Regions from separate parts of the Homo sapiens genome. Here regions 1, 2 and 3 are each reported to be linked to region 4. The links are microRNA targets in miRTarBase. Many come from high-throughput screens and were not tested one by one. Region 4 holds a microRNA gene; each other region holds the end of a gene's coding sequence.
What was found. The annotated mature microRNA hsa-miR-7843-5p reads GAGGGCAGAGCCAGCUUCCUGA and lies in region 4 at 3,734-3,755, opposite strand. An mRNA with a match to its seed (bases 2 to 7 or 8) in the 3' UTR can be bound and repressed. Matches are read on the target gene's strand: a 7mer-m8 pairs with bases 2 to 8, a 7mer-A1 pairs with bases 2 to 7 and ends in A, and an 8mer does both.

Region 1 (7,637 bases), not on the chromosome of region 4:
AGGTGGGAGGATCGCTTGAGCCCAGGAGTTCGAGATCAGCCTGGGCAACATAGACCCCGTCTCTACAACAAAAAACACTATAGTCAGGTATGGTGGTACGCCTCTGTAGTCACAGCTACTCAGGAGGCTGAGGGGGGAGGATCACAGGTGGTCAGGGCTGCAGTGAGCCGTGATTGCCCCACCACACTCCAGCTTTGCCAACAGAGCAAGACCCGTGTGGGGAATAGACAGGGGTCCCCCCAGGAAGGCCAGTGCCAAGGCAGGGAGCTCTAGTCGAGGAGAGAGACATGAGGGCCTGCAGTGGGGTGAGACGTGAAGAGACTCAGATGGATTCCAGAAGAAGCAGGAGGCACAAATCAAGAGTTCGGGGAAAGACGGACAGGACACCAGGGAGAAAGTCACGAGCAACCCCAGGTCCTGGTTTAAATAGGTCAATGGTGATGTCATTCACCAGGACAGGGAACAGAGGAGAGGACCGGGTTTCCGCTGCATGGGGCTATACGGTGAAGAACATGGTCATGGAGGGCTTGCAGGGCTGGGCTGTCAGAAACACCAAGGGGACATGGGTGCCCAGAGTAGAGGTCTGGGCTGGAGATGACATGTGGAAGCCAGGGGCATGGAGAAGGTGGACTGAAACCGTGGGCTTGTGTGAGGGTGCCTCAGGAGAGGGGAAAGGGAGGAAGAGGGCTTGGACTTGACCTAAGCCACACACGAGCTCCGTGGAGGAGGACTGGCCTGCACAGGAGACTGAAGGAGTCTCCAGAGAGCAGAAAGGGCACATGGCCCAGAGGTGCCCGGGAACCAGCATTTCAAGGAGGCAGGCACGAACAGTCACAGCTGCCGAGGGGTCAGGGAAGCTAAACATGTTCCTGGGATTCGGTGGCACAGAAGTCACATGCAGCCAGGGAGGAGGAAGAACCATGATCTCAAGGTCTGAGTCAGGTGTCTCCCAGCCAGACTTAAGTGTTAAGGGAAGTGGGGGGGATGAGCAAACCGGTTTCCATACGTTTTTTAATTATGTCAGTGATCGGTATTCTCAAACACCAGCTGCTGCTGGTGGTGTGACCTGAACCCCTGCCTCTTCCAGCCATCCATTAATTTTCAGATAGATGCATGCCGACAAGCCCAGTCCTGGGGCTGTCACTGGACACACACAGGCGGATCATGCAGCTCACAATCTCAGGGCAGGGGGAGACAAACACAATCCCCAGAAGATCACCGCCTCGGAGCCCTGGCCTAGCTCACCTACCTCCAGCAGCTCCTGGGCTGTAGATCTGCGTAGTAAAAATCAAACCCTGAGGCAGAACCGGGTATTTCAGGGAATTTTTGTACCCAGCTTCTCTTGAAGGGCCCCTGAATAGTCTGTAAAAGGGATGGACGCCCAGTTGCAGAAACAGGCATTGTGCAAGGCACTTGTGTGTGTGCACTGAAATGGCTGGTTTCCTGGTTTCAGTCTAGATGAGCCAGTAGTGGCTATGAATGAGACTGGAAGAGGGGGCCCCTGTGAGAACATCTTTCAATCAGAATGTGCTGTACGGAGGGAGGGCCAGAGTTCATTTTGGTCACCAAAATTAACTTTTTTTTGTTTGGTTTTCCACTAGTTAGATCTGCCAGTTCCTTTTATCCCATGCACTGAAAGTTTAAAGTGGTGTTCTCAGGAATTATGTTTGGCCAGGAAAGGAGAAATCGCAGAAGCCAATTACATCCTCACAGGCCCCTTCCTTCCAGGAGAATGACTTTACCATCTTGGCTTTTGTACATGATATGAGCCAACATGGAAACGCAGGCTGCTCTGAACTCCTGTCATCATCCATCTTTACTGGGGACTGGGCCACTGGGTATTTTTTTCCCTAAGTCATAATCAGTGTACCTCAACGCTTAATAGAATTCATCCCCTCTAACTCCATGAAAGGACCATCACTTGTTGAAAGTTGCTAGAAATTATAAATACCTTTGAAACCTTCTATTGGTTGTGATGTGTCCCTTTATTTTAAATTTTGTATCAGTGTCCTCAGTCAGTCCAATGTCTTCAAGGAAAGTGAGTGCCCAGAGTCACAACAAGTAATGGGGAAACTCATCAGCTGGAGATCTGGGTCTGGCCAACAGGGCAACTTCTGGACTTTTCAGAAAAAGTGAGAATCCGAGAGTTTCAAAGGATTTATTTGATTTCCCCACATGATCACAACCATGGTTTTACATTGATAGAGTCTGTTGCCACTGACAAACAGAATGCAGATGAAAACAAACGCACTCCTTTCCTCTCAAAGGTACACAGTGGGGGTGCCAGGCTTCTTGTGAGGGAGGTGTCCCTTGAAGTCTCTGAACAGTCTGGGGATTCAGGACCTGATTCTAATTGCTTAAAACAACTCGGAGGCAAAAGATATTTTCCAAGAGGAGATGCATGCTGTGTGCAGTCTCGATGTGACTGCACACAGAAGGGCGATGCAGATGCATCTGAATGGAGGGCAGGCCTCCTCCCTCTTGTCCTGTGCTCAGCACCCCCACCTCACCCTGCTCAGTGTTGCAATGCTGCCTTGACTATTGTTGTTACATAAAATACAAATGTACTCGTTTCTCAGGCAGGAAGGGTGATGATATTTTACAAGGAGAACTGTAAGACTGTGCGTGCTTACCTGCGGGCACAGAGCTTCCCGTGGCGCTGAGTCAACACCCAGCATCAGCTGTGAACATCTGCTGTCTTTTCAGCTCATTAAGAAAAACAAGAGGCTCCTGCTGCATGCAGTGTGTGAGGGAAAGATCACTGCACTGGGTGCTGAAGACATTTTTAAGCAAGATGTGCACAGCATATTAGGATGAACTTTATTTTTACATTGTTGTACAATTCATTGGTAAACTTAAAAAAATACAAATACATGATTTGATTGTTGTCCCAGAAAAGACTTTTGTCACATTGCCAGCTGTTTCCCTCAGCGTCTCCTGCTCCTGTCAGCAATTCTGTATGTAACTGCAGTAATTTGTGTGACTTGAGAAAGGTGTGCCAAGGGCGTCCTCACAGTGAGAAGGGACCAGGCAGACATCCTGGGGCCCTCGGCCTCCTCCTGCCTCCCCTCCCAGGGGATGTGATGACAGGACCCCGAAGCTGTGGCTCTGACAGGTGGGATCTCTAAAGGGGACAGTCCCATGAAAGACACACGGGGACACCAGCTCACTGGGAGCTTTTGCTTTCCCAAACAAGATGTGGGCAGCATGACTCCAGCCTCTGGAACCCAACAATGTATCTTCCACAAACTTTTGATAAGCTTGCAAATAAAACAGAATGAAACCTCACTAGCCTGAAGGAACACACTGAGTGCGGCGGGAAACCCCGGGAAGGGCTCAGTGGGTTCCAGCAGTTCCTTACGCGAGGCCCTGCTGCCCAGCACAGCTCCAGGACACACCGAGGACAGTGCCACAGGCTGGCAGCCCGAGGCTGTGGAGCTTGCAGGATGGCGATGGAGAGGGAGAGTTTCCTGAAAGCCCCTCCTGGGGTTTTCTGTCTGTTCCTATTCATTACTGCTACCCTTCAGAAAGAGCAATTCTGTGCCAAACGGCCTGAATCTTTTCTGGAACAACCTAAAGGTTACAGTTAGACTCTCCTCCCAGCACAGAAGAGGGTGAGAAAAGCTGACATACTCAATATGTAATCGCTTTACTTCAACGATGTGTTTACAGTCACGCCAATACATTTTGCAAACGCACAACACGCAGAGCGCAGCCTCACAGCTGACGCCAGATGACATGCAGCAGTTTAACGCTTCCAGGTCGGAACAGCCTCCTCAAAATTGCGAGACAGAGTGCTTTGGGGAGCCTGGCTTTTAAAAAAGACCCGAGAATTGATGAGTCGGAGACACCAGGGCGCTTCCCTGACAGCCCAGCCTGGACCCAATCACACGGTCCCATGCTGTTTCTTTCTGAGCAGACACCAAAGAAATGCCACGCCAATGGGAGGACACAGGTGGGCGGGTTAAAGTCACATTTTTAAAAAGGCTAAACTCTAGATTGCTGTATTTGCTCTCTCTGGAGATTAACAAAGTGCTTGGTTTGCAGATTTGCTGGTACGGTGATCTCAATGATATGACCGAGGGTGGGAGGGATGTGAGGAGGGAAATCGGCAAAACCCTGGCCAGCCAGCCAGCCAAGGTGACACACAGCCAGAGGGGGCTCCCCTCTCCTCCTGCCGTCCGGCCACGGCTCACCACGCTGTCCACTGGGAACGCGGCCCCGCGGCCCGCAGAGTCAGGCGTGAGCTTCGCCCTTTCTGAAAGGGCCTCCGCCTGGGCAGGCGCCGGGGGGCAGTCCTCGGGTCCCATGGCTTAGGAGCACAGCACTGACGGCTGCAGTGGCTCGAAAGGCTGAAACTACAAAGTATGGCCCGTGGGTGACTCGGGCACAGACCTGCCGCGTGCAGGTCTGGCCCTGGGGAGCGCATGGTGTCACCACAACACAGAAGCGACAAGAGCACAGCTGAGAGTCATGTGATGCCCTGGCAGCTCACTGGACCATGGGAAGGCAGCGGGGGCTCCGCCGGGCACTCGTCGGCTGGGGTCACACGGGCCACGGTGAGGACACAGGGGTTCTGCTAGCACATGGCTACATGGAATTACGGTGATCACTGCTACCACTCAGAAAACAAAACGGGAAACACACACACCGCCCTGGGTTGCTAAACGCTAAAGTCAACCTTCAGGTTCGAGAGTGGTTCCTGATGAAAACACTCTCTGAGGGCTTCGGCCTGGTGTGGGTTGGAGGCGGGATGAGGACGTTATGGTGTTGGGGAGACGAGGATGAGAGCTGGTCACTTTCATGTTGGAGATGAACACTTCTGCCGTGTATGGGTGCCCCTCTCGGAGGACTCTGAATGAGTGTGCGTCAAATCATATGCGCATAAAAGAAACATGGATCATGGAGAGTCACAGTTATCGCAGCCATTAAAGTGTCTAAGAATCCGTGTAACCAATGTCCTAAGACAACCAGCTTGTAACCAGCTGTCCTGAGTTGCTACTGTAGAGTGTACTGCAGTTTAGCTATTTGCTTACCTGAAATAACAGCATTATAATACTATTTATGATAGTATTCTGTTAATAAAATAAGGATTTATACAAAGCAATACTGGACTTTTTAAACAGTTAGATGCTATGTTACTTGGCACAGTTAGTAATGATTGTGTAAAGATTTTAGCCAGTCCTAGAGGGACTTCTTTGTATGAAAATATGAAGTATCTGAATTTGTTCCTAGCATTTAGGGTTTGGTCTATTGTCTCACACACCCAGCTAAGGTACTGTCTTCCTATTAGGTAAGTGGAGCTCCTTGTAAGGTGGGTATTGCTAATGTGGACTGAAACGCCTGCCTTTCACACACAAGTACTACCTATACAGTATATATATATATATATTTATATATTTATATATTTATATAAAGTTTACTTACGTATTTTCATCAACCATATCAGGTCTACTTATTTTTTTGCCCATTGTCAATAAAAGAGCAATAATGCAGCAAGTTTTGGGGTTTGTTTTGTCTGTTTTTGTATCTCATTTCTTCGTTTTCTAGGTTGGGTTTTCATATGCATGTACATTAGGGCACAGGGAGCTGAGAGCTGGAGTGGGGGAGGCAGTTCAACACTACTTGGCTGGCTCACCGTTTCAAGGCTGATGGTGTCTGAGGCCCACCCATCCCTCAGACTGAGGTGAGCAGAGCCCAGGGTGCCAACAAGAAATGAAATCTGGGCCTTTGTTCCACACAACACCAGCCCTGTGGGCTCCTGGGGCTCCGGTTGGGCCGTGAGGGGCAGAGGGGAGAGATGGCAACAGAAGTGCCCCGGGTTTGGTGTGCGGCTGGCGACCCCCGGGCGTGCCCTGTGTGGTGTGCAGGTGTTTCAGGGAGCCTGGGACCCCTACCCAGGCTGTCTACACAATTGTGCTGATGCCGCTGGGTTTGGCCTTGCTGCTGGTGGGGGGCGGCGGGGCAGGGGGCTGCCCATGGTGGTGCACTGTGTGCCCCACGTGGGCCGAGGGCAGCGGCGGGTGGCCGTGGGCATGGGCCCCGTAGGCTGGGTGGCCCCCATGGGGGCCGTGGTGGTACTGGTGTGCGTGCTGGATGTGCTGGGGTGGGTGGTGGTGGTGGTGATGGTGGTACGGGGGAGGGTTCTGCATGTGGCAGTACTGGGTGTGATGCCCGTGCATGGCGGCCTGCGGCAGCCCCTCTGGGGGCCCCAGGTGGTGGCCAGCCACAGAGTGCTGCAAGTGAGGCAGGACCACCGGTGGGTGGGGGGGTGGCAGGGCTGGGGCTGAGGGCAGGTGGGCCTGGGGAGGGGGCTTCCCTCTCTTGCTCCCGAATAAGGAGCCCAGGAGGGAAGATGAGTTGGGCATAGTCTGGTGTGGGCGAGATGGACACTCTCGTGTTGATGTAGCTCTCCGGCGCATGTGAGGACTGCTAATGATGGACCCCTAAAAAGGAAATTCATAGAAATCAAAATTAAAAGATCTTCAAGCACTTAGGTCAGAATGATTTTTTTTTTTCAAATGTAAAAATTCACCCACTGACTGCTAAGCTTTAGTTCAACTCACTGGCCAGAGGGTGGGGCTCAGTGAGGCTGGACTGGGCCCCGCCTCCTCTCACTACAGTGCAGGGCAGCTGGGGGTTACTGGCCTTGACCAAAGTGGGGAGTGAGGGCAGGGGAGGGGCCCATCTCTCTGACCACCACGGCAGAAGTAGGACTTCTGGTCTCATTCTGACAAGCACTTTGGCCCTGGCAGCAGCCTGAGATTTCAAATTGGAACCCCTAGGTTGGGGTGTCTGTGCGCTGTGTGTGGCGAGTGCAGAGGGGCTGATGTGCCTGGAGGAGGAGCCCTGCTCCTGCTGAAAACAGGGCCCTCAGCTCTCCTGGGACTGCTCAACTGGGCTGAGGGCATGTGCTCCGCCCATGTGGGTCCTGAGGTCTCGGGGGAGGTGGTGACAGGGACAGGTGGGGCTCAGAAACCTTGTCCTCTGGGAGAATGGGCTGCCTAGGCATTTCACTACAGCTGCCTACTACAAACCAAACAAGGAAAAAGAAGGTAACAGAAAAAGATCTGCAAGCTGAGGTAGAGATGTGAACAGTAATACAGAGATGGCCGGAGGATGAGTGAAATATCATGAAATCCACACTGAATCTCTTTCTCTCAAGACACTCCTCCTCCCACAAGCTAAGCAATTCCATGGTGTCCTGCCGCAGACACACAGCAATCAAACTCCAAGAAGAAAGCGATGAGGATGGGCGGGCGTGGAAGTCAAGGGTTCAGCAAAAACATCCAACAGCAAGTGTGGAGGGTGAGTGGGAGCCGGGTGGCCCGGGCGGGGGTGCCGGAAGCTGGGGATGGTCAACCATGCTCAGGGACCACAGGTGATGGGGTTAAGCAGAAACCAAAACACAAAATCCAGAACCACCCCCACTGTTGAGTCCAAAACAAGCGGTGAGAGGCATGGATATTTCTAGGCACAGAGGAGAAGCTGACATGCACAGGGTTCCAGGCAGGCAGGGGCAGGGAGTGGGTGTCTGCATCTCTGTGCAGTAGGGGAAGGAAAAGCCAAAAAAAAAAACAACAAAAAAAAAACCAAAAAAAAAAAAAAAAAAAAAAAACCAGGACAACAGATATGAA
Region 2 (7,607 bases), not on the chromosome of region 4:
CTCTGTTCAAATTTATTTCTCGGCTGGGCCCAGTGACTCACACCTGTAATCCCAGCACTCTGGGAGGCTGAGGTGGGAGGATCACTTGAGCCCATGAGTCCAAGACAAACCTAAGCAACATAGCGAGACCCCACCTCTACAAAAAAGTTAAAGAAAAATCAGCAGTCACAGTGGAATGCACCTGTATTCCCCAGCTACTCAGGAGGCTGAGGTGGGAGGATGGCTTGAGCTAGGGAAGCTGCAGTGAGCCAAGATGGCGCCACTGCACTCCAGCCTCAACCAGAGCAAGACTATCTCAAAAGAAATATAAATAAAAATAAATCAATCCTATTTTGAGGTGGGGTTCTAATGGCTACAACTAGAACAAAACATGACATACTGAAAATTACCCTTGCAAGTTCTTCAAATCTTAGGGAGTCTTGCCCTGTTACCCAGGCTGGAGTGCAGTGGTGCGATCTCAGCTCACTGTAACCTCCGCCTGCCAGGTTCAAGCAATTCTCCTGCCTCAGTCTCCGGAGTACCTGGGATTACAAGCGCCCGCCACTGCGCCTGGCTAGTTTTTCTATTTTTAGTAGAGACAGGGTTTCACCATGTTGGCCAGGCTTGTCTCAAACTCCTGACCTCGTGATCCGCCTGCCTCAGCCTCCCAAAGTGCTGGGATTACAGGCGTGACCCACTGTGCCCAGCTAGTTCTTCAAATCTTTAACAAATACTTCAGCAACTCACCTTCTGGGTCTCTTTCCCCCCTATCTGTTGCAATAAACACAGGGGTGTCCAAGGGAGAGAATACAGTCATGGGTTCTTAGTTTCTGTTTCTAGTTGGGCCAGTAAGGCCCCTTCCTCATCCCTCTTTTCCATTTATCACTAGAGACAGAAACTAAGTACCATGGTTTCAGGCTGCTACAAGTCTAAAACAATACAACAAAATAAGGCAGGTTGGACAAGCCTGAACTAGAGGATCTGCCTCCTTGCAAATCTGAAAGCTACAAACCTGACAGGAAGCACAGTGGACACCTCAACCAGCTTAAGACACCTGCCCCCAAAACACACGCAATCACTTAAACCACAAAGTCAGTTTTACTTGGTTAAGGTGTTGACAAGTCAAACTGAAAAGCAGCATAGACCCCAAAGACCTATGCCAGCAAAAACAGAAAAAGTATTCATATTGCTATTTAGAAAGCCCCATTTACTCAAAGATAAAGATTCCATTCAAAAAACCCAACACATCACTGAGAGGAAGGACACAGCACCTTGGACAAAAGGCTCAATGGCCTTGAGCCACCCAAGTTCAAGCCAGTGAGGTGGGTAGCGTTAACATCCAAATACCAGTACCAGCGTTGGTTTCACCCCCCATCTCTCCTGAGACAGCTTATACCCCATAAAAACACTAGGTCAACTGACATAATCCTAGCACAATCAACCCAGGAGAGCAAATGAAGTTCCATGTGTCAATTTTTAAACCTTTTTAAAGTAACTGGATAAATCAAGTATGGCACCACTACTCAGTATTTCCAAAGGCAATTACAACATTTAACGCCACAGTAAAAAATTCTTAAAGCTTTGAAATGTGTAGATCACTCGTTCTTACCTTGTTTAGCCTGCCTGTGAGGTTCACAACAATTTTCCCAGCTCTGTGGTCATCAATGATTTCAAATTCGCCAATGTAACCTACAAAAGATAACTGACTGGATTAAATAAAAGACATCAACTTGAGAGCTAAACCTCTGTGCTCTAGCCTACTCAATTCTTCACTCTCCCATCACCTCAGTGACTGCTTCTCCAAAAAGTTGGGGGGAAGACAGTTGCTCTGTATCAGAACTAATTTTTACAACCTAACATATAAGAATTGGGAGACAATACCCAAAACAATCCACCTTGCAATTCTGAAAGAAACTATTTTCCCCTTGACCCTTCCTTCACTGCTTCCCATTCCCAAAGACTACTTTGTGCCAAAGAAGTGCAATAATCCAATCTTTCCTCTCAAAGAGCTCTGAGAAGATCTCAAGAGTCCTTTCTTTCTTTTTTTTTTTTTTGAGATGGAGTCTTGCACTGTCGCCCAGGCTGGAGTGCAGTGGCCGATCTCGGCTCACTGCAACCTCCACCTGCTGGGTTCAAACAATTCTCCCTGCCTCAGCCTCCAAAGAGCTGGGACTACAGGCGCCTGCCACCACGACCGGCTGATTTTTGTTTTTGTTTTTTGTTTTTTTAGTAGAGACGGGGTTTTGCCATGTTGGCCAGGCTGGTCTCGAAATGAGCTCAGGAGTCCTTTCAATGACTTAGATTCATTTAGCTCCCAAACACCTAGCAGAGCTCCTTTTTCCAGCAGTCCTACTCTAAGTGACTCTTCAGCAGTTTCAGACTATCCCCTCCTCCACAGCCCACAGGTCAATTGCATTCGTTCTCAGGTATGACAGACATACTTTGGTCCCCCATAATTAATTTCTACAGGACTGATTTCTTAGAGAGTCTCACATGAAAACATAAAACACAGCGGCAGCAGACTTACCATGCTTCATCATCACAGTGAGAAACCGGACGATGACTTTGGAGCACGGCCTAATAAGCACCTGGCGTTTGCCTCTCTTTTCGGCATTGTTGATACTCTTGAGAGCATCTGCCAGGACATTCATGCGCACCATTGTGGCTGTTCAAGGAAGACAAAACAGGAGGTTTTACTGGCATTGCCAACATCAACAGACACCAACCATTACACTGCGGAAGTATCCTTTCCTTTCTGGCCCCACCTTGGCGAAGTTTTCTCAAGTCTAAGCAGGCTGCTTCTCCATTTCCCACCACCCAGGAAAATTCCTATTTACTACGGTTGTTGAAAACAGGTTATCGGGACGTCAGCCTGCACATTTTGAAACTCATTCATTCACTAACCACTCTTCTTCGAATCGTGCCACACACCAACGTCTGGAGATAATAAAATGTGGGACAAAATCCACTTGACACAAGACAACGTGAGAACTGGCAGAAACTGCCAGCTACCGGAAGGAAAACATCGGGTATAGTCGATCAGTGATTCAGAACAGAAGCAGAGTATCATCGGCAACATTTTCCAAATTGCTGAAAATCAGCAGATTCCATACTATTAACATTGTACTTTAAATCAGTTCACTCTCACCTACAATGAACACATCTAACTATTAAACATCCATCTTCGTGCCATTTAAAATTGCGTCCAACAGCAAGAGCCACAGTGGCAAACAGAAACATTTTACATGCTTGTCAGACTGGACTCTCTTCTAATGGGCAAGAACCGCACACTACACTGAAGTTTTGAAAGACCAAAGTGCCAATAGTAAAGAGTAGAACTTAAATTCCTTAAGTTCAAAAGTGTCTAAAGAAAAACTCTGCGGCCCAGAAGATCCAAGTTGGCACCCAGCAAACTGCCAACCCCGGCACGATGCAGCTTTTACCTGCTGGGTGGCCTCAGCCTCCCAAGCTCCCAGCGCGGCCGCAGCAGTGAGAAGCTGCACGGCCCACCAGCCCCGATGTTGCCCGCCGCCCGGGGCCAAGGCGCTGCCTCAGCACTAAAGGGAGATCCAGACGCTGCGGCCCGAACCGGAGCTACCGCCTAGCTGGGCAGTCGAAGGCTCCGGCTCCCGCCCGCGCTGCGGCCTGCACCCCACGGACCGGGATCCCCTGAGTGCACAGTCTGGGGCGCCCAGCCATGGCTCTCCTCTATGCCTGTCCAGGAACCGGCAAGGCCAGGATCCTCGGCCAAGGTGGGGACCAGCCTCCTCGCAGGACACCGAGACCGAACCTTAGATTGCAGGATGGCGCCGATGGCAGACGGATGAAATTGGAGCTCTCAGAGAGTGCTACTCACCGGCGCGGAAAGATGGCGGAAAGAGGACGGGAGGGGAGAGCGCACGGAGTTATGGGAAGCGGGAGAGCTATCGCGAGACTTTCAAAGGCCCGGCAAAAACAAGGACCGCCTAGGAGAAGGACGAGGGTGAGGGAAAGGCGGAGCCTCCTCAGGGGTTGGCAGTTGAGAGTCGATGGAATCGACCTCCCCCGGTGGGGCCTGGGAGAGGCAAGGTGAGCCGTTCGTTGGAGGTTCGTCTACATTTTTTTTTTTTTTTTGAGACAGTTTCGCTCTTGTAGCCCAGACTGGAGTGCAGTGGCGTGATCTCGGCTCACTGCAACCTGCGCCTCCCGGGTTCAAGTGATTCTCCTGCCTCAGCCTCCTGAGTAGCTGGAACTACAGAGATGCGCCACCACGCCCGGCTAATTTTTGTATTTTTAGTAGAGACGAGGTTTCCCCAAGTTGGCGAAGATGTTCTTGATCTCCTGACCTTGCGATCCGCCCGCCTCGGCCTCCGAAAGTGCTGGGATTACAGGCGGGAGCCACCGCGCGGGCCTTAATTTTTATTTTAGTTTACTTTTGATAAGGAGTCTCGCTCTGTCGCCCAGGCTGGAGTCCAGTGGCGCGATCTTGGCGCACTGCAGCCTCCGCCTCCCGGGTTCAAGCGGTTCTCCTGCCCCAGCCTCCAGAGTACCTGGGATTACAGGCGCCCGCCATCACACCCGGCTAATTTTTGTATTTTTAGTAGAGACGGGGTTTCACCATGTTGGCCAGGCTCGTCTCAAACCCCTGACATCAAGTGATCTGCCCACCTCGGCCTCCCAAAGTGTTGGGATTACAGGCGTGAGCCACCACACCCGGCTAAAAATTTTTTTTTAATTAAAAAGTTAAGTTCAGACAAAAGTCACCCAACAGTTGTTTACTGAGCACCCATGTACCAGACGCTAGCAAGGCCCTGGGGTACGAGGTGCCCACACAGGCACCATTTAGCCAGTTCTGTCCCTGCCGGTTCTTCCAGCTTCGTCCTCTCTCACACGTCAATGCCCCTGCTCATTCGTTGCATTTCCTCTTCCCTCTAGCATGGTACCTGGATATTTGCTAAATAAAACTTAAACCTTTTATTTTTGTTCTTTTTTAAAATTTTTCCTAGACAGGGTCCTGCTCTGTTGCCCAGGCTAGAGTGCAGGGGTACACTCAGCTCAATGCAACCTCAAACTCATGGACTCCAGTGAACCTCCTGCCCAGGTCTCCCAAAGTGGTGGGATTACAGGTAGGGTACCTTATAGACATCTAAGGACCACACAGGGTACTTCATTAATCAGATTCATAAATCCAATCATAAATATTATATTGGCTAAGTTATAAAGAAAGTGAGACATGAAGATTCCAGCTTTTTTTATTTTTTCCCCTTTTACACAAAACAAAGTAGAAGAAATAATACAGGATTAAAACTGCAAAAGTAGTTAATCAGTAGAATATGTATGCACACAAAAAATCCAGATAGGAAGACAGGCTTATTTACAATGAAAGTAAGGTAAAATTAACGTAGTTTTCTTATGAAATAATAAAAAAAAATCAAACATATGCTACAATGGGCACCACTGTTCACAGCAATATTAAAGAGGAGAAAACAACACTTATTTAATAGGGACAGATATACCACAAGGTACAACATCAGTGCAATAAATTCACAAAACTATATTACAGCTAGTTAATCAGTTTAAGAATTGTTCCCGTCAGTCACATTTTTTGGCCCTCAGAAGTTCATTCCTAAAGATTTCAACTACTCTAAATTTCTAGCTACCAAGAAGTTAAGAATGATTATAAGAAGCTTTCCAAGGAGTTATGAAATCTTTGTAGACCAGAGGCCAACTATCATCACCTCAAGTCTGCTCTCACCAACAGCCCTTGTATTTTTCAGGGAGAAATCTCTAGGAAAAAAGTCAGACACCAGTGTAGTCACTATCTCCCATGTCAAACCTAGGGGACTAAAATGGTCAGTATTACCATAAAATGATAATTTTGAGGTTTACCTTAAAAGGCTTATTCTGGTCTCAAAAATTAGATAAGATTATCTTCTACTGAAATGAATATTGACTAAACATAGAAGACTGCTGTCCTTTTGCCAGTCTTAGAGTGAAAGTCATAGACATGAGTCTTAACCTACTGTATACTATAGCTAATGTCAGCTGAAAATCTGAAATTAAAAGCATGCTAGAAATCCTAAATGCAATCTTTTGGAAGTCTGCTATTAAAAAGCCTTTAAGGATTTACTAACTTCGAGTCTAAGTGCAAGGGGACGAAAGCTTAAGCCTGTCAGACATTCCTTTTCTTGGACAAAAAGATCAAAGTTTCCTACAAATTGCTAAGCTTTGCACAAGGGAGAAGCCTACATGTACTAGTGCATGGAATCAGTTTCATCTTATTTCATGGGGACTCTTCTCCCACTGGAAAGAAACAGAATGAGGAATGAATCTTAATTGGTCTCTTCATCAGAAGTGGTAAACTTGGTCTCTATATTCACGAAGTCAGACAGTTTTTTAAGCAGACTGTGGAAGCAGACAGAACCAGCTTCCTGTAGCCACAGACCACTACATGGTATCTAAGCTAAAGCAAAGATGAACAATTATCCAGATTCACTTGAACTGTACTAAAGGGCAAGGTTCACCACTACAAAAAGGAAGTTGTCTAAAAGCAAGAATTCAATTAACGCTGGGTAAGAAAAGTCAAAACACTAATGAGTTGTCCATGAAGCCAACTGCTAAGAACGCGCTCAACTATACGCGACATGAAGACACTATGCACGAAGCCTTACTTGGCGAGTCTGAATTTCTATTAACTAAGGGCAGAGTGAGGGAGAACAAAGAGCTACTTCCGTAACATTTTAGTATCCAGATAGTACAGCAGAAACGGTTCCCGGGGCAATGGGTGCTGCATTAATCACACTGATTAAAGCAGATGAATCATTCGTTTTTCTTTTCTTTTTGTTTGAGAAGTTTGTTTATCTCCCTCTTGGCCATTCCAATGTACTTCAAAATGATTCCATGTTGGTTTAGTCCAGGAAGCAATAGTAAGGAAGTCACTTAAAATAAAAAAAAACCCAACATTAAGGAGGCAGCAATTAACCTGCTAAAGGTTATTACTTTTTTTTTTTTTTTTTGAGACAAAGTTTCACTTTTGTTGCCCAGGCTGGAGTGCAATGGCGCAATCTTGGCTCACCGCAACCTCCGCCTCCCAGGTTCAAGCGATTCTCCTGCCTCAGCTACCCAAGTAGCTGGGATTACAGGCATGCGCCACTACGCCTGACTAATTTTGTATTTTTAGTAGAGATGGGGTTTCTCCATGTTAGTCAGGCTGGTCTCGAACTCCCAATCTCAGGTGATCCGCCTGCTTCAGCCTCCCAGAGTGCTGGGATTACGGGCGTGAGCCACCACACCCAGCGACAAGTCTCACTCTTTTTGCCCAGGCTGGAGTGCAATGGCACAATCTCGGTTCACTGCAACCTCCACCTCCCAGGTTCAAGCGATTCTCCTGCCTCACCCTACCAAGTAGAGTAGCTGGGATTACAGGTGCCTGCCGCCACGCCTGGCTAATTTTTGTATTTTTAGTACACATGTGATTTCGCAATGTTGGCCAGGCGGTCTCCAACTCCTGACCTCAGGTGATCAGAGGTTATTACGTGTGTATGGCGGTGGTGGGTGGGGGGGGTGGTGAGTGCAGTGGTGTGATCTCAGCTCACTGTAACCTCCACCTCCTGGGTTCAGGTGATTCTCATGCCTCAGCCTCCTAGGTA
Region 3 (7,637 bases), not on the chromosome of region 4:
TCTGCCTGGCAGACACTCGAGGGGTCTTTGGCTTCAGATAAAGGATGGGTCCACCCTGCCAGCTGGGTCCCACCTGGGGGCTCTGCCTGTCTTCAGCCCCTTGCTTGGGGCTTCTTTGACCTCGTGGGGCACCCTCCCTCCTTTCCCCTGACCAGGGGAGCAAAGCAGATGTCAAATCAGTGGGGCTCTGGCTTGGTAGCCCTTGGCCTGAGGGCACTGACCAGCTCCCCCATCACTGGAGGGGGACTGCAAGGGCAGCCCCTTTTTGGGGCACTTGACCCCCAATTTCCCATTTTCCTTTGTCGCAGACAGCCCCACTGCCCTCCCCAGGCCCCTGCCTGTGGGGCCGTCTGTCCATCGGTCTCCTCCCTGCCTGCTGCTGCAGTGGCGGAGGCTGGGGGCTGTACCCCCACAGGCCTGCATCTGCCTCCACGGCTCCCACCATCCTCTGCGCCCAGGCATGGTGGGCAGCCCCGAGGGTGGCAGGTAGACCTGTCTCTTCCCACTTACTGCGGCCCCGCCCCTACCACAGGCAGAAGCTGACCCTGCTTAAAGAGATGCTGGCGGGCTGTGGGGCTGGCACCTGCCAGGTGATCGTGACCACGCCCATGGAGATGCTGAAGATCCAGCTGCAGGATGCAGGGCGCATTGGTGAGGGCGGGGGGAGGGGGAGGAGAGGGCAGAGGTGCGGGAAGAGGTGAGGGCGAGGGGAGGGTGGGGACGCAGGGAGGGCCAGAGCGTGTCCCCTGCCCAGTTCGCACAGAAGAGGAGACAGCAGCCTCTTTGTCCCCAGCCGCCCAGAGGAAGATCCTGGCTGCCCAGGGCCAGCTCTCGGCCCAGGGGGGTGCCCAGCCCTCAGTGGAGGCTCCAGCTGCCCCTCGGCCCACGGCCACCCAGCTGACCCGCGACCTGCTGCGGAGCCGTGGCATTGCCGGTCTCTACAAGGGACTCGGGGCCACGCTGCTCAGGTAGGAGGCACAGGGCAGGTGGGGGGAGGGAAGGGGGAGGCCGGCCTGCCCACCCCACCACCTCCTGTCCCCACGGCCACCTCCCTCCCCACAGGGATGTCCCCTTCTCTGTGGTGTACTTCCCGCTCTTTGCCAACCTGAACCAGCTGGGCCGCCCGGCGTCCGAGGAGAAGTCGCCTTTCTACGTGTCCTTCCTGGCCGGCTGTGTGGCTGGGAGTGCCGCCGCTGTGGCCGTCAACCCCTGTGATGGTCAGTGCATGGGATGGCGCCCGGCTGGGGATGGGGCGGGACTGAGCCCTTGGCCAGGCTCACACTGACCCGAGCGCCCCTTGCAGTGGTGAAGACGCGGCTCCAGTCACTTCAGCGAGGCGTCAACGAGGACACCTACTCTGGGATCCTGGACTGTGCCAGGTGGGGAGGTCCCACGGCGGGTGGGGCCTGGGGGCCTGCGTACCGGGCTGACCCTTTCGTCCTTCCTCCACAGGAAGATCCTGCGGCACGAGGGCCCCTCGGCCTTCCTGAAGGGCGCCTACTGCCGCGCGCTGGTCATCGCGCCCCTTTTCGGCATCGCACAGGTGGTCTACTTCCTGGGCATCGCGGAGTCCCTGCTGGGGCTGCTGCAGGACCCCCAGGCCTGAGCCCAGCACCCGCTCCACCCCAGCCAGCTGGGCAGGGCCGGTGTGGGGCTGGAGCCAGGCAGCTAGCCCAGGACGGAGCAAGGGAAGACCCCTCCCCAGCCCTCCCGTCGGCAGGGGCAGCAGGGGGCAGGGTGCAGGGTCCACATAGGTGGTGCACACGCAAGCCCCCCGGGGTGCTGCCTGCACCGTTGGGATCAATGTCTCATTTATGTAGAAAATGCAGAAATCTTTACATTCCTCAAGCTAGCCCCTGCCCCAATCCTGCCCTGGCCTGAACACCCCCAGGGACAGAGCTGGTCTCTGGGCTGGGGGCCCCCGGGCCTGGGCCGGGCAGGCTGGACCATACCCCCAGTCCACCAGCTCCAGTCTCCACAGCCATCCTGGCCCACACAGGCACCCCACACAAACCTATTTATTGAATCTGCTGGACCCAAGCGGCTCTCCAGCCCTTCCGTCCTTCCCCAGCCGCTCTTGTCGCCTTGGCAGGACTTGACTCTGCCTCCCTGGCCAGCCTTGCAAGAGGACTGGGGTCTCCTGCCCTCTCTGTTGAGCCAGGAATCCCAAGTGAGGGGTTGCCCTGAGGTCTGACTCTTGGGGCAAGCCCGCCACCCACTGTGGGACTTTCTGGTGGGCTCCTCAGCTCCCACCCCAGGCTGGGGCCCAGATTGTGAGGTCTGTGTGCATGTGTGTGTGTATGTGTGTGTGCATGCGTGTGTGTGTTGTGGGGATCTGGCCTGGCCCTTGGGGATGGGGCTGCTGGGGACTGCCCCCCTTCCCGCCGTGGCCAGGCGCTCTGTGTGCTGTGTGTGCCCCAGGCTCTGTTGACCCCGTCCAGGAACTAACTTACCCAGCTTGGTCTCTCCTGAGTCCTCCACCCTGGCCTGGGATTGGCCAGGGAGCAGGGCGGGCATTGGGACCAGTGTGGAGCCTGAGGGTGCCTGCCCTGCTCTGGAGGGAGGGCCAGGAGCTGCCACACCCCCAAGTCCTCTCAGGGCCCACCCTCCTTTTTCAGCCTCTGCATAAGGCCCCTGGGTACACTGCAGAAGCCCCATCCTTCCCGCCTCCGGGCATAAGGCCCCTGACCACACTTCAGAAGCCCCATCCCCCCTGCCACCGGGCGATCCCTGCTGTGAGCCGAAGCTCTCCCTGCCCCGCCCTGGCCATGTGATCGTGTTGGTGACAGACCCTGATGTGCTGGTGCTGTGTCCCCAAAACCGGGGCCCTCCACAGAGGCCCCTTCCCAGCGACACTACCTGGGGCTCAGGCCTGGACCCCCCCAGTTCACGGTTGCTCCTGGGAGCTGCCCCTCCCGTCACATCAGAACCTTGGAAGCTGCTGCTGCTGCTTACAGAATTATATTTTTTTCTTTTGAAGAGTTTTAAGAAGTTGTAACTTTTTGTGTCTTGTCATGTCAGAGAATAAATAAATATTCTAAGTAGATGCTGCTGTCTGTCTGGGGGTCTGTTTGGGGGCGGGGGAGGGCAGTCCCCTCTTCCCATAACTGGCTCCCTTCAGACTGCAGGGCTAGGCCTGCGCACCCACCCACCGACCCCTCACCCACCGACCCGTCACCCACCGACCAAGGGGCACCCTGGCCTAGAGGGGATGCTGAGCGGGACCCGCCTCCTGCCTCTGGCAGTCCCAGATGGGACTTGGACCCCGCAGTTGCTCTCTCGGACCCTAAGTTTCTACCCCTGGATCTAAGGCGGAGCTGGGTTTGCGGATCCCACGGTTCCCGGCGGGGCGGGGCCCGGTCGCCCCTCCCCCTCCCCGCCCTCCTGCGCCGGGAGCAGTGCATTGTGGGAAACTCCCGAGCTCTCCTCCGCGTTCGCAGCCGCCGTCATCCCGCGGAGGAGCGCGCAGCCCCGGGGAGGCCGGAGGACGCGTAAGGCGGGGGGCTCCCGGCGGGCGGGGCGGGCGGGGCGGGCGCGGCGTCCTGCGGGGCGAGGAGGCGGCTCCGGGCCTTGAAGGTCACTGGGTTTGCGCGCGGGCCCCCCAGTTCTCCAGGGCTCAGTTGATCCCGGGAGAGGGAGGCGGCGGCCGGGATGTAAGTGCCACAAATAGCGAGGTTGGGGGGGCAGACCACCTGCTCTTTGCAAACTTGATGCCCAGCAGCTGAGCCCCCCGAGAACTGCAGGGGTGAAGGGACGGCTGGGCTTCCCTGGGAGGTGGCAGCAGCTGGGCCTCTTCTGGAGACGCCCTCATCATGCTGTGACCTTCGGGTGACCTTCAGTGTGGTCAATGCACCTGGCGGGGGGTGGGGAACGTGCCTCCCTTTCTCTGCAGGTCTGGAGGGCATTTCTCATCCTTCCCTGGGAGAGGCAGACAGGCGGCCTCTGGGGCTTTGGGGCAAGACCCACTCAGGTTCAGGGCGGCTGGGCCCCCAGGGCCCTTCCCACCTCTGCCTCGGTCATTGAGAATCTGGGCACCGCCTTTCCCACAGCCCAGAACCCTGTCCTCCGCCCTGACCCGCGGGCCAAGTGCAGCATGTGCCCACCCTGTTTAACGCCAGGAACCCTCTGCCCACAGAGACAGCACAGCCTTGGGCTGGGCGAGGACTCCCTGCTCCAGGGCTGGAGGCAGGCACGGCCCATGCTGAGGAGGGGGCCCCAGAGGCTGGGGAGGGGCAGACGGCCCTTGGAAGCACAGCCCCACGCTGACTTCCTGGAGAGACACCCCAGTTTTCTCAAGTCTGGGTTCTTGTGGGCCCACCCACCCTGATGGCTGCCTGAGATCCCAGCTCCTGCCCCTCCCCGCCCTCCTCCCCCTGGGACCCTGGCCAGGTCACAGCCTCCGTGCTTTAGTGTCCATCTCTGCAAAGCAGGAATGCTCTCCTGAGGAGGGGATGCAGTCAGCTCTCCCACTGGGGCTCCGATCACCTCCTTGGAGGGGAGAATGCTCTTCCTTCGAGTTCTCTGGGCCTGATCCTTACTTCCCCACCAAGAGCCTCCTGCCCCCGGCTGGTGGGAGGATGTGGCATTTGCATGGGCCATTTTATGGAGCACAGTGGGGTCCCCTACCTCCTCCCACCTGTGCGTGGCCCTTGCCTCTGCGGCTGGAGGGGCCCCTTGAGGAGTGGTCATGGACAGATGGAGTCCAGGCCGTGAAAGAGAAGTGTCAGAGGCCCACGGGAGGCCCCTGAGCTGGGGCTCCAGAGAGTCCAGAGAACTGGGCAGGGGCTGCCTGGGGACCAGGTGGTCGGGGCAGCACAGGGGGGACTGGACCCGCGCGCAGCCTCCCTTGTGTCTCCCTCCAGGCCCATAGAATGCCCAGGGGCGACAAACTGTCCTGAGCCCCTCTGGTGCAGCCACCTGCCTGTCCCATACGCCCCGCCCACCATGGAGTCCAGAGGGAAGTCAGCCAGCAGCCCCAAGCCCGACACCAAGGTGCCCCAGGTCACCACCGAGGCCAAGGTACCCCCGGCAGCCGATGGGAAAGCCCCCTTGACCAAGCCCTCGAAGAAGGAGGCCCCGGCCGAGAAGCAGCAGCCGCCAGCAGCCCCCACCACGGCACCTGCCAAGAAGACCTCGGCCAAGGCCGACCCTGCCCTTCTCAACAACCACAGCAACCTGAAGCCAGCCCCCACGGTCCCCAGCAGTCCCGATGCAACCCCGGAGCCCAAGGGTCCTGGGGACGGGGCGGAGGAAGATGAGGCTGCCAGTGGGGGGCCTGGGGGCCGAGGTCCCTGGTCCTGTGAGAACTTCAACCCCCTGCTGGTGGCTGGGGGTGTGGCCGTGGCAGCCATAGCCCTGATTCTCGGTGTGGCCTTCCTGGTCCGGAAAAAATAATACCTGGGGGCCAGGCGGGGGGCACGGAGCCACTTCCTGTACAGACCCGAGGAAGCCAGTGCATGCAGAGTTCACCCTTACCTATTCGTACACACGCACATTCATTACACACCTACATACGCCCCCAACACACGCGCACGGTGAAGAGGACGCCCGAGCCCACCCCTGCTGACCCAGGACTTCCCCAACCTCCAGGGCAGAAAGAGCCCAGGCTCCGGGGTCCACAGCACAGGATGTGGGGCGAGGGCACAGCTGGGGAACGGCAAGAAAGGAATGGACCCTGTGTGTGGCCCCCCCCACCCCTGGCGGCTGGGTGATCCTGGGCCCCCAGGGCTGGTCTGAGTGCAGGTGGGGGTGCCGGGATGGGTTGGGCCTGGGCCCGGCCCTCGTGGGGACATTAAAGGGCGCGGTGGCTCCACTCGCCCCATTTCTGCTCTTTGCGTACCCCCCGGGGGTCTGCCTGGGCGAATGCAGTGGGACGGACCTGGGGTGGGCACTCACCTCAGCAGAGCCTCAATGCCACCTCCCCACACCACCCAAGCCTAGCTGGGTGGGAAGACGGAGCCCTGAAGCCTGCGTGTGGAGGGGGTGCTGCCCAAGGGTCGCCTTCCCCAGCTTGTGCTCCAGGGGAGCCCCGACGCCGGCGGGGAGGCAGGGATGTCGAGGGCCCCTCACAGCTGTGCCCGCCCTGCCCCGCTAGACTGCCCCTCCAGCTTGCACCCAGCACCACCTGAGTCTAACCAGCGTATAATGCAATAACAGGTAGAGTAGAACTGCTTTTGGCGGCGACCGTCACACACTGTCCTCAGCCCACTGCACCTGGGGAAGCCCCTCGTGCAGCCCCTCCTTAGCACATCCAGTCCCAGCGTGGCCCTTGGCGCGCAGCAGCAGGCGAACTCCCAGAAGGTGGTGGTGGGCACTGTGAGAACGTGGCCTGCCCTCACTGGCCAGTGGCCACAGGAACCCCGGGCCTGAGTGGAGGCTGAGTCTGAAATAAACTCTGTCGTCTGAAGGCTGCTCTTGCATCCTCATCTGCATGTGGCTGGGAGACGCAGGGTCGCATGTGTCACGCCCACACCCCAGGCTTTCCAGGGAGGGATGCTGCATCCAGGACCCTCTGACGGGACCCCCTGTCACTCCTATGCCCTTATTCCAGGGGCCTCGGCCCGGATCGCCACCCAGGCCCTGCTCCATCCTCCTCCCTGGCCTTCCTGTGGGTCCTGACCCAAGATGGACACCCAGGGGCTACAGGACCAGGAAGCAGTGAGGACATGGGGTGCGGGGAGGGCAAGCCCTGCTTCTCAGGCTGAGCTCTCCAGCCAGGCAGGGGCCCTTCCGCAGCCCCCACTGCAGCGAGCCCCACATCCTGAGTGCAGAAGAGGCTCCCCTCAACACCTCTCATCCATGGACCCCAGCCCACTCTGACCAGGTGTCCAACCGGCGGGCCTGCTGGTGGGCCTGGCCACGGGTGGGGCTGCAGCATGCGGGCCAACAAGCAGCAAGGCCTGCGGTGCCTGGGAAGGGCTCCTTTGAGCTCTGTCTTCCTGGCTCTGGGTCTCACCCGACAGGTGGCTGAGGCCAGCAGACAAGAGCTCCCTGACCACCTCCTCCCCCAAGCCTTCTTCCAGCTGGTGTGGGGGGACAGCCATGTCTTCCTCCTGCCCTTCTGGCACCTGGCACACTCCCTCCCCAGAGCAGCAGTCCTCGTTCATGCACCCACACCCAGGCCCAGACAGATACGGAGGTCCCACGGGGTAGAACCAGCTAAAACCGACACTGTTGCTCCCACCCAGGCCGCCCTGCGACAGCCTCCCTCGACTCCCACTCATGCTGCTGCCTCCTAGAAGTCAAGGAGGCAGCCTATCCCTTGAGCCCGTTGATCTGAGCCCAGCGTACAGAGAAGGCTCTGTGCAGACACTGCTCACACCTCCAGCTCCCAGCTCACCTGCCCCACAGGTGCCAGGATACCTCTCTGACTGGCCAGCAGGGCCCCTCACCATCCTCAGCCTGCCTTCCAGTCGCCCATTCTCTCCATTCTGCGGCTCGTGCTTTAAAAGCAACCAGCCAACCCTTTCTGATATAGTAGGGGACTTGAAAGGGGCTAAGAAGACTGAAGATGGTCTGCCACCTTTAACCACAAGGCTTGGCGCTTTGGTGCTGATATTCCACCCACGATGCTGCCTCATTTTACTTAGCGATTCTCTATTAAACGATGCTTAGATTTTCCAAAACTTTTTCAACTT
Region 4 (7,637 bases):
CTTTATGAAAGTATTCCAGCTAATAAGTGAAGAAAGAATAAAATTAGTACGTTGTTGTTTTGTAACCTCTAATTAACTAATGGATATAAGCGATAGACATCAATATCTGCAAAAAGGTCAAAAAGAGAGGTGGCTAGACATGTGCCTTCTGATAGGAGAGCACCACACAATCCATGAAGTGGTTTTGTCCATAAAAATCAAACCTAAATCTGATTAAATATCTTATAAAACGAATTTATAGGAAAGAGAGATGATAGAAGAACATGCTAAATAGCACCACAGGGCTGCAATCAGAAAAATCCAGAGCTTGGAACTCTTTACAGGACAAAGGATCTAAATCCTTCATCAAATAAATTGCAAGGGGATGTGAGGAAGGGAGGGAGATAAAGGATATTGTGGCAATATTAAAACAAAAGGATCTTTTTTTTAGAGATACATATCTAAGTTTACAGATGAAATGATGCAACATCTTGGATTTGTTGTAAAGTAACCTGGTGGCAGGTGAAAAAGTAGATGGGGCTAGAGATAAAGCAAGATCAGACGTGTACTGATGATTTTTGAGGCTGGATGAGGGTCTATAAATGTTTGCTGTTTTGCTGTTTCCACTTTTCCAAGTGTTAAAAGTTTTCATAATAAAAAATTAAAATAAATCCCTCCTGATGTCATGCTTGGAGTGTTAATACTGTGCTAGATGCATCAAGGTTTTGACCAGTATCCCTCTTCTTGTGTTTCATAAATATTGGAGTTTGAGCTTCAGCTTGTTCATGCAGGGAACCCCCACGGAACTCCCCTGTCACTCTCCTCTCTGGCCATGTCAATATGGTGCTTGAAAGCATACGTACATACACATAAGCAAAAATATCTCAGCAAAGAGCTCTCATGACTCAAACATTCTGCTTTGAAGCTGCAAGGGGTATATGAAGGAGTCATGATTTCGTGATTGGCACAGGCATTTGATGGAGCTCGTGACCAGGGGGAGAGAAGTAGATAGTTATGGTGTTGAGGTTGGTAGGTGTTTCCATCTTGAAGTTCTGAGCAAATGACAAGGTAATTCTGGATGATAAGGGACACTGTTCTCATGCCATTATTTGCATTGGTGCAGCTACACTGAGTTTCCTAAATCAGATAATAATGTCTGCAAGGGGCAAACCACCCAAATTCTCTACTGGGGGCCCCAGAGGTGAGAGAAGTAAGTGGGGTCAAGGAGATAAGCAAAATCTTAAGCCCTGTCACTGGGTGTGGGATGGTGACAGGAAATAGAAATTAGGGGCCAGGAAGTAAGAAACCAACCCAATGCTTATTTTTAGAAATGGCACCTCCCAGCCGTCAAAATTTAGTCTGCTGGTTAGGGTGGTTCCTGTTTCTTTAGCCAGCATCACTAGCATCTGTGAGCATCTTAATTGTGTCCTACAGGGTTGGGAGTCCCTCCTGCAGGCTTGCTTTAACCTAGGGTTCACCCATTTGGGGCACTTTTCACACTGTTGAAGTTGCCCATTTACTTGTCTGTCTCCCACTCAACCTCGGTGAGAACAGGGGTTTTGCCTGTTCTTTGTGGTATCTTATCACATAGCGCAGAGCCTGGAATATAGATGTGCTTAAAAAATATTCACTGCAGAGCTGGAGATCACTGCGGAAGCAGTGTAGAGAGGTGGTTATCAGTGTGGGCTTCAGAGGTAGACAGATGTGGGTTTGACTCATGGCCCTGCTAACTCACTACACCCACTTCCCCAATGCTGTGTTCTGGTTTCCAGATTCTATCACTGACTTATTACAAGCCTTCAGATTTTGTAAAACACTTTGAGGCTTTCCTGGAACAAATAAAGCATATAACTGCACATTTTGGTTTCTATGTAATACATAACCCATCTAGGAAAACGATCCTGGGATTTTGCTGTGCGCCTATCTGAAATGGTTTCCACTGATGAACTTAAAAATAACCAAATCTGAAATTTTAACTACCCACAATGCCTTGAACTTGTGTTAATAGGTCAGGCAATGAAGGGGACAAATGAACACCTTATGACAACCACTTGAGTAGATAAGCAAACCTGGGCGTCTTCAAATGTATATCTCCCTCCATCTTTGACATTTTGACTGGTTATCTCATAGCTGTGAGAATCCAGGTTGATTGCACTTGGAGCCCCTGGAGCCAGAAACTCTTGCCAGATTTCTTCTACCCTCTTGGCCACATCCTGTAGGGGTTGTTTCTTAAGATCTTGGACAGCCAGCCAGAACCTGAAGTGGGAGCAGAAACACAGTCAGTTCCAGGGGGCTCAGCATCGGGATGTTGCCTGAGATGGCCCCAGAGCTGATGTCCCATGAAACCCATTCTGCTGCATCTCTCAGCCTGCCCTGATGCCACTACATGAGCTGCAAAGACCATGGAGATTGTGAAAACATCAAAGGTGTTCCTATGGTGCAGAACAGAAAAGAATTGCATATTAAAAGATCAATGTGCTTCTCGTTATCAGAACGGGATTTCTCTCCTTCTACATGAAGGTTTCTCAACCTCAGCACTATTGCCACTTCAGGCTGGATAATTCTTTGTTGTTGAGGCTATTCTGTGAAATGTAGGATGTTTAGCAGCAACCTTGGCCTCTACCCACTAGATGCCAATAGCAACCCCCCTTCCCAAGTTATGACAACTAAAAATGTTTCCAAACATTGCCCAATGTCCCCTGGGAGATGAACTCATTCCTGGTTGAGAACCCCAGTGCTACATACATGCCACCATGCAGACAGTGTGAGACCCTTTGTCAAATCTAGTTGGGATCAAGTGATGGCATCAAAATGGAGGAGAGATCCCAGAAGCAGGCAGTGTCCTGGAATCATAAAGACTATCTGTGTAAGAATGAACCAGCCATTCCTATTATAGATGGAGAAACTGAGCCAATTCACATCAGTGCTCAGCACGGTGCTTGGCAAATAGTAGGTGCTCAATATATGGGTTTCAGAGTGAAGACGGACGCATCTGGAGCAATGCTGAAGAGGCATATGTTGAAAACTTCTCTGCAGAATGGTTCTCCTTCTGCTGAGAGCAAGAGAGAAAAATCTGCTCACTTCCGTATTTGCCTCTGTTTAATCCCTCAGCATCCGCATGGGAGCAGTGAGCTCTTTTCTGCTGAGAGCAGCAGCAGCCAGAGCCAAAGCTTGGACAACAGCTACCGGGTCTTAAGGATGGTTCCCAAGGCAGCCTTGCAGCAGGATCCAGGTCTGGGTGTCATATCCTTTGCCCTGTGCATGGACAGGCCAGCTCCCCCATCAGTGAGTAAGAGAGTAGGTCCTGTGCTGGTTCCGAGAGCAGCGGGAATCACAGGTAGTCTAGTCAACAGAAAGGGAGGGACAAGCGAAGCTGAAACATGACGTGGTGGAAAGTGCAGACAGTGCATTCAATCTGTCATCAAATTTCATCCAAAGTAAGATGTACTTGTTTCTTTTTTTTTTTTTTTTAGGGTTAAACATGTTTTTCTGTTGCTGTTCAGAGAAATGTCTTTGGAGCCAAGTGCATGGCCCAAAGGTGCCACTCAGTGGCAGACTGGAGTAATGCAACCCAATTTCTGCAAGGCAAGACGACTGTGTGTGTGTGTGTGTGTCCCCAAATGCTGGGCTCCAACTCTTCCCCTGATTTGCCATTTTTTGCCATTTAGGATTCTGATGATCTCCTTAAAGGAACCTCTCAGCGACCCTGCAGAGCCAAGCGTAAGGCAGAGAAGGCTTCATGACTTCCATCAGATCAGGAAGCTGGCTCTGCCCTCATCCTGTCTACGCCATATCTTGCCTTGGTGTACCTTTCTGGGTGCCTCTCTCTTCATCTGTAAAATGGGCACTGAGTGGATGGAGGGATATGTGGCATGGCTCTGGAAAACTTCCTATGCAGACTTAACTCAGAAATGCTTTCAGGTCCTGTGAGGGGGAGCTGAGGAGGGGTCAGTGTGGTGGCCACAGGCTCAATGCTGGCCCAGTGTGATCCCTCGGATTCCAGCCTTCTCTCCGCAGGTGGCCTGGGCAGATGCTGCCGCCCAGCTCTTGCTGCTGCCATCTGGTGTCCCCTGCCCTTCCACAGCTCTCTGACAGCCACAAGTCCTGGGTGCTCAGGTCCTTCTGGCTTCTGGGTGAGAGGAAAGCAGTCGTGTTTCTTTATCCAGAGTCCAGAGAGGGTGGGGAAGGAAGGGCTTGAAAGGAGCTGTTCCCCTACCTCATTGTTCAGGTGGGCCCTTGACTCTTGAGCTGGGGCATGGGTCTCCTCCATCTCCCAGGCCTGCCCTAGGTTCTGTAGGGCTCTCTGTCCACTCTCTCAGGTCTGCTGTGAAAAGAAGGAAGTGGCCGGGAGGCTTGCCAAGTGAAAATGGCCATCTGCTGGTGAGAGTACCTACAAGGCTTTCTCTGCCTGGAAGGCCATGTCTGACCAGTAGGTGAAAGATGCGGGGAACCTGGCTCTATAGGAAGAAGCCAGTGTTGGCTTTTCCAAGGCCCAGAAGGGGTCAAATGTCCAGAGACGAAGTCAGTGAGGCTTCCTCAGCCCCATGCTAGGCAGACAGGAGAACCAGGTTCACAGAGGGAGGCCGTCTGGGCTGAATCCCTGGCTGGAAGCAACCTTCTGGGTCAGCGTCTTCCCACGCCCCCTGGGCCCCTGCAACTTCTCACACAAATGGATGACACCTGGGTGATTTCCTGCCCCCTCAATCAATGCCACATGGGAGGTCACTTTCTGTCACCTCTGTCAGCACTGAGGAGGAGCTGCTGAGCCCCTGTGGGAAGGCCCTGAGGACCCTGGGAGCTCTGCAGGCTCCCTGCGGTTCCTGAGGGCTCAGGGTCCTTTTTGCAGGATGATTTGGGTGCCACATGAAAATGTACATCACTCAGCTGGATATAGAGATGACCGGAGCTGATGGAAATACAAATTTCATAATCAATTTTTTTGAGACAGGGTCATGATCTGTCACCCAAACTGGAGTGCAGTGGCTACATCTCGGCTCACTGCAACCTCCGCCTCTCAGGTTCAAGCTATTCTCCTGCCTCAGCCTCCTGAGTAGCTGGAATTACAGGGGCATGTCACCATGCTCAGCTAATTTTTGCATTTTTAGCAGAGATGGGGTTTCACCATGTTGGCCAGGCTGGTCTTGAACTCCTGGCCTCAAGTGATCCGCCCGCCTTGGCCTCCCAAAGTGCTGGGATGACAGGCGTGAGCCATTGCACCAGGCCGCGGAATCAAATTTAATAAACTTTTATGTAAAAATAAAAAGGTTTTCTTTGTCACATAAAACCAAGAATTTTTTTAAGTACAAGTGAAAACAACAGGCATGCTGGAGGAAGAGGAAGGGGAGGGGAGAGAAAGGGAGGGAAGGAGGGGGAAAGGGCAAGAAGGGAGAGGGGGAAGGTATGGGGTAACATTCCCTAGACAGCAGTTTTCTCTCCCTGCACACACTGGGGACTCTCCCTGGCCTTCTGTCTGCCTTGGAGTTGACCTGCCTTGTCTCTCTCAGGCAACAGCAAAACTGCTGTCACAGCAGCATCCTGACATCCCGTATGTGTTTACCATCACTGGTTTTGAGGAACCTTTGTGTCAATTTGAAATTCAGAACAGGCTTTGGTTAGTGTTGGCCATCTTCGAGCCCCACAGGCCTGAGCTGGGAACTCAGAGCCCAGGCCACATTCCCCGCTGCAGAGAGCCACAGCAGCTCCTCTCTGCACATCTGCTGCCCATGGGAAGCCCCTTGAAGCTTTGGAAGCTTCTGCTCTTATAAAAAACCTGCAGGTACCGCTCCTCCCCAAGGGCAGCGGCAGGGAGTGAAATGCCAGCAGCTGCATCAAATCCATCCATCCTGCACTGAGCCTCCATGGCTTGCAGCAGAAGGGCCGTTGTGACTGGCAGGCCACAAGGACTAATATCTGGGAGACCACCTGTCCTGACCTGCCCCTGGTCTCTGCCAATTGTCATAGCTGCAGTAGGGAGGCAGCCCCTGTGCGGGCATTTGATCCGTGTTCATGACTTAGAAATGCTGGCGGGGAAACTAGCTTTTGGAGCGAGGCAGCCTGGGCTCAGATACCACTGGGGCGAAGCAGTGGAGAACAGGGCTGGAGGACCATCCAGGGGCTGCCCCAGTGGGAGCCTCCTTTCTCCCTAGAGGCTTTCAAGGAAGAGGATTTTCTCAAGGCTGGCTGGGTAAGACAAACCATTTGGCCCTTGATCATTCTCCATCCTACCAGGAGGTCTGGGCAGGCCCTCAGTCACCAGTTTACATATCTTTTCATAAACTAGAATTTTCATGGGTTAGAAAATACAGCTTTTGGTTCGCTCCCAGAGAAAAAGCAAACTCCAGGAGAGAAGAAAGTGTTTCTATGCCCTCTGCTGGTCAACCAGAGACGTAGGCAGCAGAGCTTAAACTTGGTTTAGTTCCCGGTGGGGCTAAAATTCCGGGGTGCCTACGTTAGTAACCACCCCCAGCACCACTGAAGCTGAGTTCTGTTCACTGGGCAGTGACTGAAACACTGCAGATGGTTGTGGTGTCGTGGGAGTCACCTCTGTTCCTATTAATCATGGGTTTGGTAAGTGGTGGATCCTGCTGGGCCTAGTGAACCTTCTGAGGTCTTCCTTGGACTCAGGGCAACTGCCAGAGACAAGAGCTCTCGAGATGAACCTGGTGCCCCACTGTGTTCTCTTTTAATTGCTTCTCCCTTCAGCCGACACTGTGTGGAACTCGGATCATCAATCTGCAGGTTAGAAGAACAACTACCTTCTCTCAGGAGATGTTACAGCTCACAAAAAATGTACGGGGGACACTCTTTGCTGTGGGTTTTGATTTTTAACTCATTCTCTGCTGTGCAGCAGAGGGTGTCAAGCCAGGGAGGACAAAGATTTGTGTAGGGGAGATGTGGGAGAGGGAGCAAAGATGGGAAGGAGTGACTGTCATTATTCTGGGAAAATGCACAAAGCAGGAAGAAGGATGAGGCCAAGAAACTGAGCGGAGCTCCCTGCATCAGAGCTGTGAGGCCCCTGCCTTGTGGACAGAAGCCATGAGCATTCCCAAGGCACTCAACAAACAGCTGTCTGTGGGTCCACTCGGTGCAAAGGGAGCCTGCACCCAGCTCAGGTGGGTCAGAAAAGGAGAAAAAGAGGTAGACCCTGCCACAGAGAGCTCACAGCTTCAGCAAAATGCGCTGCTGGTCATACCCCACCCAGTCCACAGAGATGATGCCCCCACCCTCATCTCACAGACCCACCCAGAAGACACTGATCAAAGGGGATGTCAACTTCTATTACATCATCATAGAAATTGTTCCTTAAAGGATCCAGGGTGACACTTTGGGGCTCCTCCATTCCGCATTCTGAAGCTCTGATAGAAATTCAGCCACTTGGCTACTTAACTGGCACCCCGTGGGTTGTGCAAGAATGTTATGATCTAAGCAGCCCTTTCACTGGAGAGATGAGAGGGAGCACAGGAGGACAGAGGAAGTGGAGAAGCACTTTGTAATTTACCCAGGTGAGTTCTGGTCAGGCTTTTTCCTGCCATGCTCCAATGCCAGTGGCCTGGGCCCCTCACCAATCCTGCGGAGAAGGGACGACTCCAGCACGGCCAACATGACAGGTTGGCAGGATCCTCAAGTTGTGCCATATTGCACAACTCCCAGGGGCCTCC

Region 1: miRTarBase lists IQSEC1 as a target of hsa-miR-7843-5p. Seed matches in the 3' UTR shown: 7mer-A1 at 5,576-5,582 and 7mer-m8 at 2,463-2,469.
Region 2: miRTarBase lists ARL6IP1 as a target of hsa-miR-7843-5p. Seed matches in the 3' UTR shown: 7mer-m8 at 6,657-6,663.
Region 3: the mRNA of SLC25A22 is a reported target of hsa-miR-7843-5p. Seed matches in the 3' UTR shown: 7mer-m8 at 1,868-1,874, 7mer-m8 at 2,141-2,147 and 7mer-m8 at 2,545-2,551.

The regions. Positions count from the first base shown.
Region 1 is chr3:12,895,077-12,902,713 of GRCh38, forward strand. It overlaps IQSEC1 (IQ motif and Sec7 domain ArfGEF 1), which reads right to left. Exons shown (of 14, transcript NM_001134382.3): 14 at 1,967-6,446. The coding sequence ends at 5,907. The region is part of intron 4 of LOC105376956 (a long non-coding RNA gene); the gene reads left to right. Among named protein-coding and RNA genes, the nearest start is that of LINC02022, 14 kb to the left of the region's middle.
Region 2 is chr16:18,786,475-18,794,081 of GRCh38, forward strand. It overlaps ARL6IP1 (ARL6 interacting reticulophagy regulator 1), which reads right to left. Exons shown (of 6, transcript NM_015161.3): 6 at 5,195-6,896. The coding sequence ends at 6,778. RPS15A (ribosomal protein S15a) reads right to left here and starts at 3,860. Exons shown (of 5, transcript NM_001019.5): 1 at 3,770-3,860; 2 at 2,507-2,644; 3 at 1,589-1,668. The coding sequence starts at 2,639. RefSeq lists enhancers at 2,813-3,530, 3,468-4,097.
Region 3 is chr11:785,884-793,520 of GRCh38, reverse strand. It overlaps SLC25A22 (solute carrier family 25 member 22), which reads left to right. Exons shown (of 10, transcript NM_001191061.2): 6 at 533-651; 7 at 794-968; 8 at 1,063-1,217; 9 at 1,304-1,379; 10 at 1,453-3,046. The coding sequence ends at 1,606. It overlaps CEND1 (cell cycle exit and neuronal differentiation 1), which reads left to right and starts at 3,431. Exons shown (of 2, transcript NM_016564.4): 1 at 3,431-3,491; 2 at 4,863-6,406. The coding sequence starts at 4,945. The coding sequence ends at 5,394. RefSeq lists a silencer at 3,291-3,520.
Region 4 is chr14:72,512,949-72,520,585 of GRCh38, reverse strand. It overlaps MIR7843 (microRNA 7843), which reads right to left and starts at 3,766; the gene lies at 3,688-3,766. RGS6 (regulator of G protein signaling 6) reads right to left here. Exons shown (of 18, transcript NM_001204424.2): 15 at 2,049-2,235. RefSeq lists enhancers at 768-857, 948-1,097, 1,568-1,637, 5,315-5,815, 6,350-6,419.